Linked DNA regions of Homo sapiens. The protein of the gene in region 1 interacts with the protein of each later gene in a pairwise test. Each region holds a gene or a part of one and is shown in the gene's direction. Other genes may lie near its edges.

Region 1 (4,233 bases):
CTTCCATCTGGTTTTCTAATCCTGCTGTGGTCAGCAGAATACCACCCCCCAAAGATATACATGTCCTAATCCCCGGAACCTCTGAATATGTTAGGTTACATGACAAAAGGGAATAAAATTGCAAATGGAATTAAGGTTGCTAATCAGCTGGCCTTAACGATTCTCCTCAATTAGCTGGGTGAGCCCAGTGTTAACCATGAGGGTCCTTAAAAGTGGAAGAGGGCTGCGGAGGAGAGAGAACCATACAGAGGGCAGCAATGGACGGACTCTGGCTGAGGTTGCTACTTTGAAGTTGGAAGAAGGGGCTGCGAGTCAAGGATGCAGGCAGCCTCTGGAAGTTGGAAAAGGCAAGAAAAGATTCTCCCCTGGAACCTCCAGAAGGAATGCAGCACTGTCGACACCTTGATTTTAGCCCAGTGAGACCCACTTCAGACTTCTTACAAAACTGTAAGCCCCAAACTACAGCTGCCCAATATAGAGAAGGGCTAGCTCAAAGACATTTGTGAGTGTGGCTTCTCCGATGGAGCCAATCCCATTAAGATTCATAGGAAGACCCACAAAATTAAGAAACTTACACTGGCAAAAATGCCACCGGCTGTGATTGAAAGGGAAAGAGACAAGACAAAATGAAAAGGAGCCTTAGAATCCCCATACTCACTTATTTCCTGGGTAACCCAGTCCCCTCCCCTTAACGACAAAATGCCTATAAAAAGGAGCTGATCATCGAAAAATTGCTTAAGAAGTAATTTCCAAAGGGCTCGAGGGAAAGTCCATTGAAACATCCCCAGCCTGCAGCAGGGAAGCCCTTAAGGAACACAGGATTCAGGAATCTCCTCCCGCAGAAGTGCTGATCAAACACTGCCCCTGAAATGACTGAAGCAGTTCCCGCCGGCCGATAGGTTTTTATACTTTGAGGGTCCCAGGCCACCCACTCACGGCTGTCCTGTTCAGACTGAGGGACTTCTGATTTCCTTTAGTCTTCCCAAACTTTTAGTACGGCTCAAGAGGACCCTGAGAGTGGCTGGTGATTGCCCTGAGTGGAAGGCCAACGAGGGACAGGCGTACCGTGCGCAGAGAGCTGCGGAGAGGAAACCAAGCGCCTAGCGCCAGCGAAGATCGGCGCCCCTGTAAGCCCAGCATTCCCAGAATCCTTCGCGGCTAAATCTCTTCTTTTCCTCGAGGCTCCATTTCGTTGGATTCTGGTGGACTTTAAAGACGTGTGCAACAAAAAAGCACGATGGATAATAGATTCCGGGAGCAAGCACAGGCGGAAGCCTCTCTGGGAAGTACAATCCCTGAGCGTGTGTGTATCATAAACCGGGCTGCAGGAATGAAAAAGACTTTGGCCAGAAACAGAGCCCCGCGGCGACTTCTGGGAAATGGAGTCCGGTGTGGCCGCCGCGGGGCATGTGCGCATGACCGGAAGTGGCGCCAATCAGGCGCGTCCCTCTGGCGCTGGAGCCAGGACCTGGCGTTGGGCGGTACTTGGACAGCGGTTCTTGAGCTCTCGCGGTTGCCGGTAGATTGTTGCCAGTTGCCAGTTGCCAGTCGTTTTTCGGAAAGCTGGCAGCGGCTTTTTCACCGGGTTCTGCTTGAGGCCGAGCCAAAGAGTGGCTGTGACTCGGGAGACGGAGTGGAACACCCGGCTGGGCAGGCCCGGACAGCTCCCGCGACCCAGCACCGCAGGATCAGACCGTGCCTCTGCGGGGAGAGGCTGGAGAGGAAGAGTCCGGCCTGGGAGCCGTCAGAGCAGCCCTGCAGAACGGGGTGGGGGCTGCTGTAGATAGACCCTTACGCCCAGAGAACTGCTGGGAGGCTGTGGCGCGAGGCGGGACTCAAATGCTGGAGGAAGGAGGTGAGGAGTGGTAGAGGGAGCGATTGTCAAGAGATCGGCTGCTGCTTCGTTTGCCCACGACTGCCGCTGTGTGAGCCGAATCAGAACTCTCTTTATCTCTCCTACAGGTAGTTGGAGACAATCATTTTTTCTTTCTTTGCCCATGACACAGCCCCAGGAGATCCTGAGAACATGTGCCCCTACAGTCCTTTTTTGAGTAAAGAATTCGGGGGTCAAAAAAGTTTGAGGACCTCAGACTGCGTGATTTCTGAGTATTGTACCACGTACCCCAGTCTGCCCAGATGGACCAATGACAGTGGAGAGTAGGGAGAAGTGGGTTCCTGGGGACTCCTCTGTCACTTTTCTCCTTCTAGCCCTTCTCGAAGCAGCCAGGAATGCCTGGAAGCCCGGGAAAGTTTGGGGGCAGGCCAGCCCAGTAGGATTGTGAAGTTGTGGAGGACAGGGGAATTTGCAGTTAGAAGGCACAGGTTCTTGTGAAAGCTGTGAGGTACCAGCCAGGTCTCTTAACCTGTATTTCTCCATGGAAGAAAGGACAAAATAATGTTAACTACTTTGTTTACCTCTGAGAATTGTAATTCTCAAATGAAATAACACTTTTGAAAGCACCCTGAATGTGGTACAGAACAAATGTGTAAGCAGGCAACCTCTTTTAAGTCTTAACCACCAACACCTCTGCTGTTCACCCCTAGATCAACTGTATTTGGTCTTTTACTCTACAAGTGCAATTTTACATCCAGAATTTGGTGCTGTCCCCAAGATCAAGAGGTCCTTGTATTTGTTTTTTTTTGTTTGTTTTGTTTTGTTTTTGAGACAGAGTCTCGCTCTGTCGCCGAGGCTGGAGTGCAGTGGCGCAATCTCAGCTCACTGCAACCTCCGCCTCCCAGGTTCAAGCGATTCTCCTGCCTCAGCCTCCTGAGTAGCTGGGACTACAGGTGCCCGACACCAAGTCCAGCTAATTTTTGTATTTTTAGTAGAGACGGGGTTTCACCATGTTGGCCAAGCTGGCCTCAAACTCCTGACCTCAAGTGATCCACTGGCTTCGGCATCCCAAAGTGCTGGGATTACAGGCGTGAGCCACTGCTCCTGGCCAAGAGATCCTTATATTTGGTCTTGCACTTGAAGAGTAGAGAGTGCAATTTCACATCCAGTATTTTGTGTTATCTTCCCCAGACACCTGGGAAAGCAGAGCAGATGGGTCGTCATCTTCCCCATACTGCAAAACAGGAAAGGAAGTGCTGTCAGGTTAGATAACTCTCAGTAACAGAAGGTCTGTCCTAAGATCAGGATCCAGATCTATTTATTTATTTTATTCAGATATCATTCACATACCATAATATTCACCCTTTTAAAGTGAACAATTCAGTGGTTTTTAGTATTTTCACAAAGTCTTGCAACCATCACTATTTAATTCCAGAACATTTTTGTTATCTGAAGAAGAAACCCCATAGCCTGTAGCAGTGACTCCCCAGTCCCTCATTTCTCCACAAGTCACTGGCAACCACTAATCTGCTTTCTGTCACTATGGATTTGCCTAGGACATTTCAAATAAGTGGACTCATAATATGTGACTTTTTTTTTTTTTTTTTTTGAGACGGAGTTTTGCTCTTGTTGCCCAGGCTGGAGTGCGATGGTGCGATCTCAGCTCACCGCAACCTCCGCCTCCCGCGTTCAAGTGATTCTCCTGCCTCAGCCTCCCGAGTAGTTGGGATTACAGGCACCCGCCACCACACCCAGCTAATTTTTTGTATTTTTAGTAGACACAGGGTTTCACTGTGTTGGCCAGGCTGGTCTTGAACGCCTGACCTCAGGCAATCCACCTGCCAATATGTGACCTTTTGTGTCTCGCTTAGCACATCATTTTCAGGGTTCATCCAGGTTATAGCATGCGTCAGTACTTCATCCCTTTTTGTGGTAGAATGATATTCCATTGTATGGAGAGATCACATTTTGTGTATCCATTCTTCAGTGAATTTTTGTGTGTGTGTATGTTTGATTTCTCTTGGGCATATACTTAGAAGTGGAATTACTGCGTCATACAACCCTCTTTGACTTTCACAGGAACTGCTGAACTTTTTCCACTGTGGCGGCATCATTTTCTATTCTCAGCAGTGTATGAGGTTTCCAGTTTCCTTACATCCTCATCAACACTTGTTATTCTCCATCTTGTTTATTATAGTCATGTTAGTAGGTGTGATGTGTTCTCTCATTGTGGTTTTCATTTGCTTTTCCCCAATGACTAATGATGTTCAGTTTCATGTAGGGAGTGGCTATTTGTATCTCTTGCTTGGAGAAATATCTGTTCAAATCTTTTGCCCATTTAAGAATTTAGTAGGGCCAGGCACAGTGGCTCACACCTGTAATCCCAGCACTTTGGGAGG
Region 2 (3,731 bases), on another chromosome or scaffold:
TCTACTAAAAATACAAAAAAATTAGCCAGGCTTGGTGGCGGGTACCTGTAATCCCAGCTACTCAGGAGACTGAGGCATGACATCACTTAAACCCAGGAGGCAGAGATAGTGAGCCAAGATCATGCCACCCCACTCCAGCCTGGGTGATAGAGTGAGACTCCGTCTCAAAAAAAAAAAAAAAAAAAAAAAGCCTGTAACAAAGAGCTTGCAAACCTGAGGAACAGCAGGTGCAGGCCAGCTGCACTTGGCCTTTGAAGACAGCCAGGAAGCCAGTGTGGCTGGAACAGAGTGAACGAGAGATAGAGGGGTAAGAGTTAGGCTTGGAGAGGCAGGCAGGGGCCCCACAGGCCGTGGGAAGGGGTTTGACTTGATTCTAAAAACCATATGAATCATGGGAGGGGTTTAAGCAGGAGAGTGACACGTTTGTTCATATTAAAAGATCCCAGCTGGGCATGGTGGCTCACACCTGTAATGCCAGCACTTTGGGAGGTTGGGGCGGGTGGATCATGAGGTAAAGAGATCAAGACCATCCTGGGCAACATGGTGAAACCCTGTCTCTATTAAAAATACAAAATTAGCTGGGTGTGGTGGCGCACGCTTGTAGTCCCAGCTACTCGGGAGACTGAGGCAGGAGAATCACTTGAACCCAGGAGGTGGAGGTTGCAGTGAGCAGAGATCGCGCCACTGCACTCCAGCCTGGTGACAGAGCGAGACTCCATCTCAAAAAACAAAAAGATCCCCTGGGCAGCTGTGGGGTGAGCAAGTGTCAAGGGCAGAGTCGGGAGAGAGAAGACCGTGCTGGCCCACGTGAGTGATGATGGGTGCTGGACCCGGTGGGGGCCACAGAGGGATGAAAGTGTCAGATGTGATGCGTATATTGGCTGTAGAGTGGACGGGACTCTCTCTTTCTAAACAGACACGCCGCTTTTTGGATGCCTCCTATGCCTGGCGGGAGTCTTGTCTGAGCTGGCACCACCACACGGCCCACGACATCTTCGCAGGGAAGCCTGTGGACCCTCTGCCAGGCTCCACAAGAGGTCAGGACAGTGCAGTGTGTTCACAAGGCCAGTTTCTGATCGTCCGCCCCGAGGCTGAGGACCAGTAGGCAGCTCCCAAGATGGTGAGTAGACAGCCTCGTGTGCCCTGGGTTTCTCTCCCAGTCTTTGTAGGACCCTGGAAGCAGCCCCTCCTCCCCTCCCAGAGCTCTAAGATGATGATTTCAATCTCCGGGTCATCATCTTTTGGTGCAGTGGGTCTGAAATGTGGCTTTGCGCTAACATCACCCATGGGCACTTTTTAAATGTTTTTTTGTTTCATTTTCTTTTGTTTTTGAGACAGTCTCACTTTGTTGCCTAGGCTGGAGTGCAGTGGCACGCTCTCGGCTCACTGCAACCTCCGCCTTCTGGGTTCAAGCAAGCACGTCCCACTAATTTTTGTATTTTTAGTAGAGACGGGGTTTTGCCATGTTGGTCAGGCTGGTCTGAAACTCCTGACCTCAAGTGATCCACTACACTCAACCTAAATTTCCCCTTCCCCCTTTCCCCTCCCCCTCCCCTACCCCTTCCTTTCTCTTTCTTTCTTTCATTTTTTTTTAACAAGGTGAAATTCATATAACATAAAATTAACCATTGCAAGGCCAGGCACAGTGGCTCACGCCTGTAATACCAGCAGTTTGGGAGGCCAAGGCAGGCAAATCATTTAAGATTAGGAGTTTGAGACCAGCCTGGCCAACATGGCGAAACCCTGTCTCTACTAAAAATACAAAAATTAGGCTGGGCGCGGTGGCTCACGCCTGTAATCCCAGCACTTTGCGAGGTTGAGCTGGGTGGATCACCTGAGGTCAGGAGTTTGAGACTACCCTGGCCAACGTGGTGAAACCCCGTCTCTACTAAAAATACAAAAATTAGCCAGGCGTGTTGGCGGGAGCCTGTAGTCCCAGCCACTCTGGAGGGTGAGGCAGGAGAATCGCTTGAACCCGGGAGGTGGAGGTTGCAGTGGGCTGAGAACATGCCACCACACTCCAGCCTGGGCAACGAAAGCGAAACTCCATCTCAAAAAAAAAAATACAAAAATTAGTTGGATGTGGTAGCACATTCCTGTAGTCCCTGCTACTCAGGAGGCTAAGGCACGAGGATTGCTTGAACTCAGGAGGCAGAGGTTGCAGTGAGCCAAGATTGCACCACTGCACCCAAGCCTGCGTGACAGAGCAAGACTCTGTCTCAAAAAAAAAAAAGAAGAAAACAAGAGCGACTCTTCAGCCAGGCTCAGTGTTCTTTCTTGAGACCTGTGTTCAACGGTACTACATGTGTATCTGCCCAGTGGCAATGTTAAATACTTCTTACCGTCAATCACAGTCTCCAAAAGAGTGTGAAAGCCACCATAGGAGCATCTGAACCTCATGGAATTTTCCAAAGCAATGACAATGGGTTTTTTGCCCAAGTAGCCCTTCCCCAATCAGACACTGAGCCCAGCACTGTCCTCTAAAATGTCCCCAAGTCCCCCTTATCCAGGTCCTGCCCCCTGAGGCTGCACAAGTAGGTTTCCTGGAGGGAGCCTGTGTATTAGTCCAGTCTCACGCTGCTCATAAAGACATACCCAAGGGCTGGGCGCGGTGGCTCACGCCTGTAATCCCAGCACTTTGGGAGGTCGAGGTAGGTGGGTCACAAGGTCAGGAGTTCAAGACCAGCCTGGCCAATATGGTGAAACTTTGTCTGTACTAAAAATACAAAAAAATTAGCTGGGCGTAGTGGCACATGCCTGTAATCCCAGCTACTCGGGAGGCTGAGGCAGGAGAATTGCTTGAATCCGGGAGGCGGAGGTTGCAGTGAGATGAGATCGCACCATTGCACTCCAGCCTGGGCAACAAGAGTGAAACTCTGTCTCAAAAAAAAAAAAAAAAAAAAAAAAGACATACTCAAGCCTGGGTAATTTATAAAGGAAAGAGGTTTAATTGACTCACAGTTCAGCATGGCTGGGGAGGCCTCAGGAAACTTAACAATCATGGCAGAAGGGGAAGCAAACACATCCTTCTTCACGTGGCAGCAGCAAGAATGAGCAAGAGGAAAAGCTCCTTGTAAAACCATGAGGTCTCTCGAGAACTCATTCGCTGTCATGAGAACAGCATGATTCGCCCCCATGATTCGATTCAGTTACCTCCCACCAGGTCCCTCCCATGACACGTGGGGATTATGGGAACTACAATTCAAGATGAGATTTCGCCTGTAATCCCAGCACTTTGGGAGGCTGAGGTGGGTGCATCACTTGATGTCAGGAGTTCAAGACCAGCCTGGCCAACATGGTGAAACCCCATCTCTACTAAAAATACAAAAAATTAGCTGGGCGTGGTGGTGCATGCCTGTAATCCTAGCTACTCAGGAGGCTGAGGCAGGAGAATCGCCTGAACTCGGGAAACGGAGGTTACAGTGAGTCAAGATCGCACCACTGCACTCCAGCATGGGTGACAGAGCAAGACTCCATCTCTAAAAATTAATAGTAAAATAAAAAATCAGAAAAAATTTTTTTGAATGAGATTTGGGTAGGGACACAGCCAAACCATATCAGCCTCTCTCTGAGTCATGTCTCTGTTCTGCTTTGCAGGGTGAAAGGAAAGGGGTCAACAAGTACTATCCTCCAGACTTCAACCCTGAGAAGGTAAGCAGGCTCTCCGCTCCAGGTCCACAGTAGCAAAAAGACCCACGTCATCCCCTCTTGGGGTTAGAGCCACTGCTGCG
Region 3 (2,547 bases), on another chromosome or scaffold:
CAAATTTCCAAAAGTATTGTAAAAATACTTTTCATCTTCTAGCAGAATTCCTGTTACTATTTTTTAAAGTGGTGACTTGGATAGAATAACATCAGCAAACCACATTTCTGGCCCAAATGCATTCTGGTGATAGCCTTAATTATGAGAGCTGACTTTCTATGAAGCTCCCTGTGATAATTTGTCACGTTTATTCCATCCACTTATTAAATATTATTAATGAATTATTAGTCATTTATTATGATAAAGCAATTAGAATAAAATATAAACAAATAATAGTACATATTAATTCATTTGCTACTCTTAAATGTAGCAGAACTACCAATGATCAACCTAGGGATCATACTTTGTAGATCAATGTGAGACTGGCAAAGTATCATATCAATAAGAGGCAAGTAGAACATTTAGTCAGAATTTCGGAACTGCACACAGTAGTTCATAAACTTTAGTGGATATATACCACCACCTTAACAATCGGAAAAGGCATGGATTCTCAAACCAGAAAAAAATCACCATGATAAATTCCTCCACTGGTTTGCATATGATCCAAAAGGATCCCAGAGTACATGAATTTATCCCCAGTTACCCCAAGCATAGAACAAAGATTGTGATTATTCTACACAGAATTTGAGTATAGAAAGTTGCATCATGTCATTCATTTGGTTATTTTTTCACTAATTCATCAAATCTTTATTAAGAATCTGCTGTATCAGGCACCGTTATAAGAAATGCAGATTGAGCAGATGAACAAAATAGACAAAGTCTCTACTTTCTGCAGGTTACAATGAGACAGAAGGGATAGAGAGACTGATTTTAAAAATGAATGAAATAGATTCTAACAGTGAAGAATCCTGTGAGAATAATAAAACTCAGTGAGTTACATTAAGTTCAGTTACTGGAGGTAGACTAATTAATATAAGGTGGCCATTAAAAGTCTCTCTGGGAAGTGAACATTTCAATTGAAATAGAAAATGAGTCAAATATTCCTGGTATTATTTTAAGAAAGAGAAATCAGTAAGTGCAGAGGCCAGGGCCTTATTGTGAGAAGAAACCTGCTGCATTTTAAAAGACAAAAAGCCAGCAGAGTTTGAGCATTATAGATAAATGGAGGAGAGTAGCAGGATATGAAATCAGAGAGATACGTAAGGGCCAGAACTTCTCAGCACAATGAAAGGCCTTTAGAGATATTTTTGCAGGGGCACGCTATGTTCTGATTCACTGAGGCATATAAAAGGCCCTCTGCGGAGAAGTGTCCATACTGAAGTCACCTACACTCCTTCCTACCCAAGGATGACCTCAACAACCAACACCATGTGTGGCAGCTACTACAGAAACTACAATGGTGGCCATGGCTATGGGTGCTGTGGCTACGGAGGCCTGGGCTGTGGTTATGGCGGCTGTGGCTATGGGTGCTGTGGCTACGGAGGCCTGGGCTTTGGCTATGGAGGCCTGGACTGTGGCTATGGAGGCCTGGGCTGTGGCTATGGCTCCTTCTGTGGCTGTGGCTACAGAGGCCTGGACTGTGGCTATGGCTGTGGCTATGGCTATGTCTCCCACTCCTTCTGTGGCTGTGGCTATAGGTGCGGCTCTGGCTATGGCTCCAGCTTTGGCTACTACTATTGAGGACACCATGGGAGACTCTCACCCTCTATCCTGTGACATTGCAATTCACCAATTCTGAAGCCCACATGCTCTGAGCCTTTCCCTTGATTGATGATATCCTGCAGTGGAAGTCTAATATGATCTGTTGTTGATCTACCATCTAACCCAAAAATACCCTGAGTTTCCATCATGAAGTGGGATAAGGTGAAGTTCACCTGTCACTTCTCCTTTTATCAGGATGATGGTGTCACAGTGACTCCTTTGATGACTTTCATGCTGTAGTTTGTTTCTCTGCTGACCTAATAAACACATTTAATCCACAAGAGAAATCTTGGTGTTTGTATCTTATTTATTGTCCAAAATTTTTTTCTTTGATTTTTTGCTTTTATCGTTATTTTTTTCAACTCTTATTTTAGGTTCAAGGGTTATATGTGTATATTTGTTACATGGGTGAATTGCATGCCACTGAGGTAATATGTGAAAGGTAGTTTTTCAACCCTTACCACCCCCCACCATCCCCACTCCAAGAGTCCCAGTGTCTATTGCTTTCATGTTTATATACATGTGCACTCAATTTTTAGCTCCTACTTATAAGTGAAAACCTGTGGTATTTGATTTTCTGTTCCTGCATTAATGTGCTTAGGATAATCACCTCCAGCTGCATCCATGGTGCTGCAAAGAATATGATTTCCACTCTTTGTTGTGGCTACATAGTATTCCATGGTGCACATGAAACACATTATCTTTTGTCAACTATTGTTAGACATCTGGGTTGATTCCATGTCTTTGCTCTTGTGAATAGCACAGCGATGAACAGACAAGTGCATGTTTCTTTTTGGTAGAACAATTTTTTTTTCTTTGGGTATATACCCAGTAATGGGATTGCTGGGTCAAATGGTAGTTCTGCTTTAAGTTCTTTGAGAAATCTCCAGATGCTTTCCAGAGTGA

What was found.
Region 2: the proteins of ZNF79 (region 1) and YJU2B interact in binary tests that used the Homo sapiens proteins (3 or more experiments, as listed by UniProt).
Region 3: the proteins of ZNF79 (region 1) and KRTAP6-3 interact in a two-hybrid assay, tested with the Homo sapiens proteins (one large-scale study listed by BioGRID).

Annotation. Positions count from the first base shown.
Region 1 is NC_000009.12:127,422,949-127,427,181, forward strand, and holds the start of ZNF79 (zinc finger protein 79), read left to right. Parts: upstream 1-1,433; 5' UTR 1,434-1,839; coding exon 1,840-1,855; exon of another isoform or gene 1,856-1,962; intron 1,963-4,233. UniProt on the Homo sapiens protein: May be involved in transcriptional regulation.
Region 2 is NC_000019.10:13,750,692-13,754,422, forward strand, and holds part of YJU2B (probable splicing factor YJU2B), read left to right. Parts: intron 1-916; 5' UTR 917-1,117; coding exon 1,118-1,120; intron 1,121-3,597; coding exon 3,598-3,651; intron 3,652-3,731. UniProt on the Homo sapiens protein: May be involved in mRNA splicing.
Region 3 is NC_000021.9:30,591,159-30,593,705, forward strand, and holds KRTAP6-3 (keratin-associated protein 6-3), read left to right. Parts: upstream 1-1,281; 5' UTR 1,282-1,308; coding exon 1,309-1,620; 3' UTR 1,621-1,897; downstream 1,898-2,547.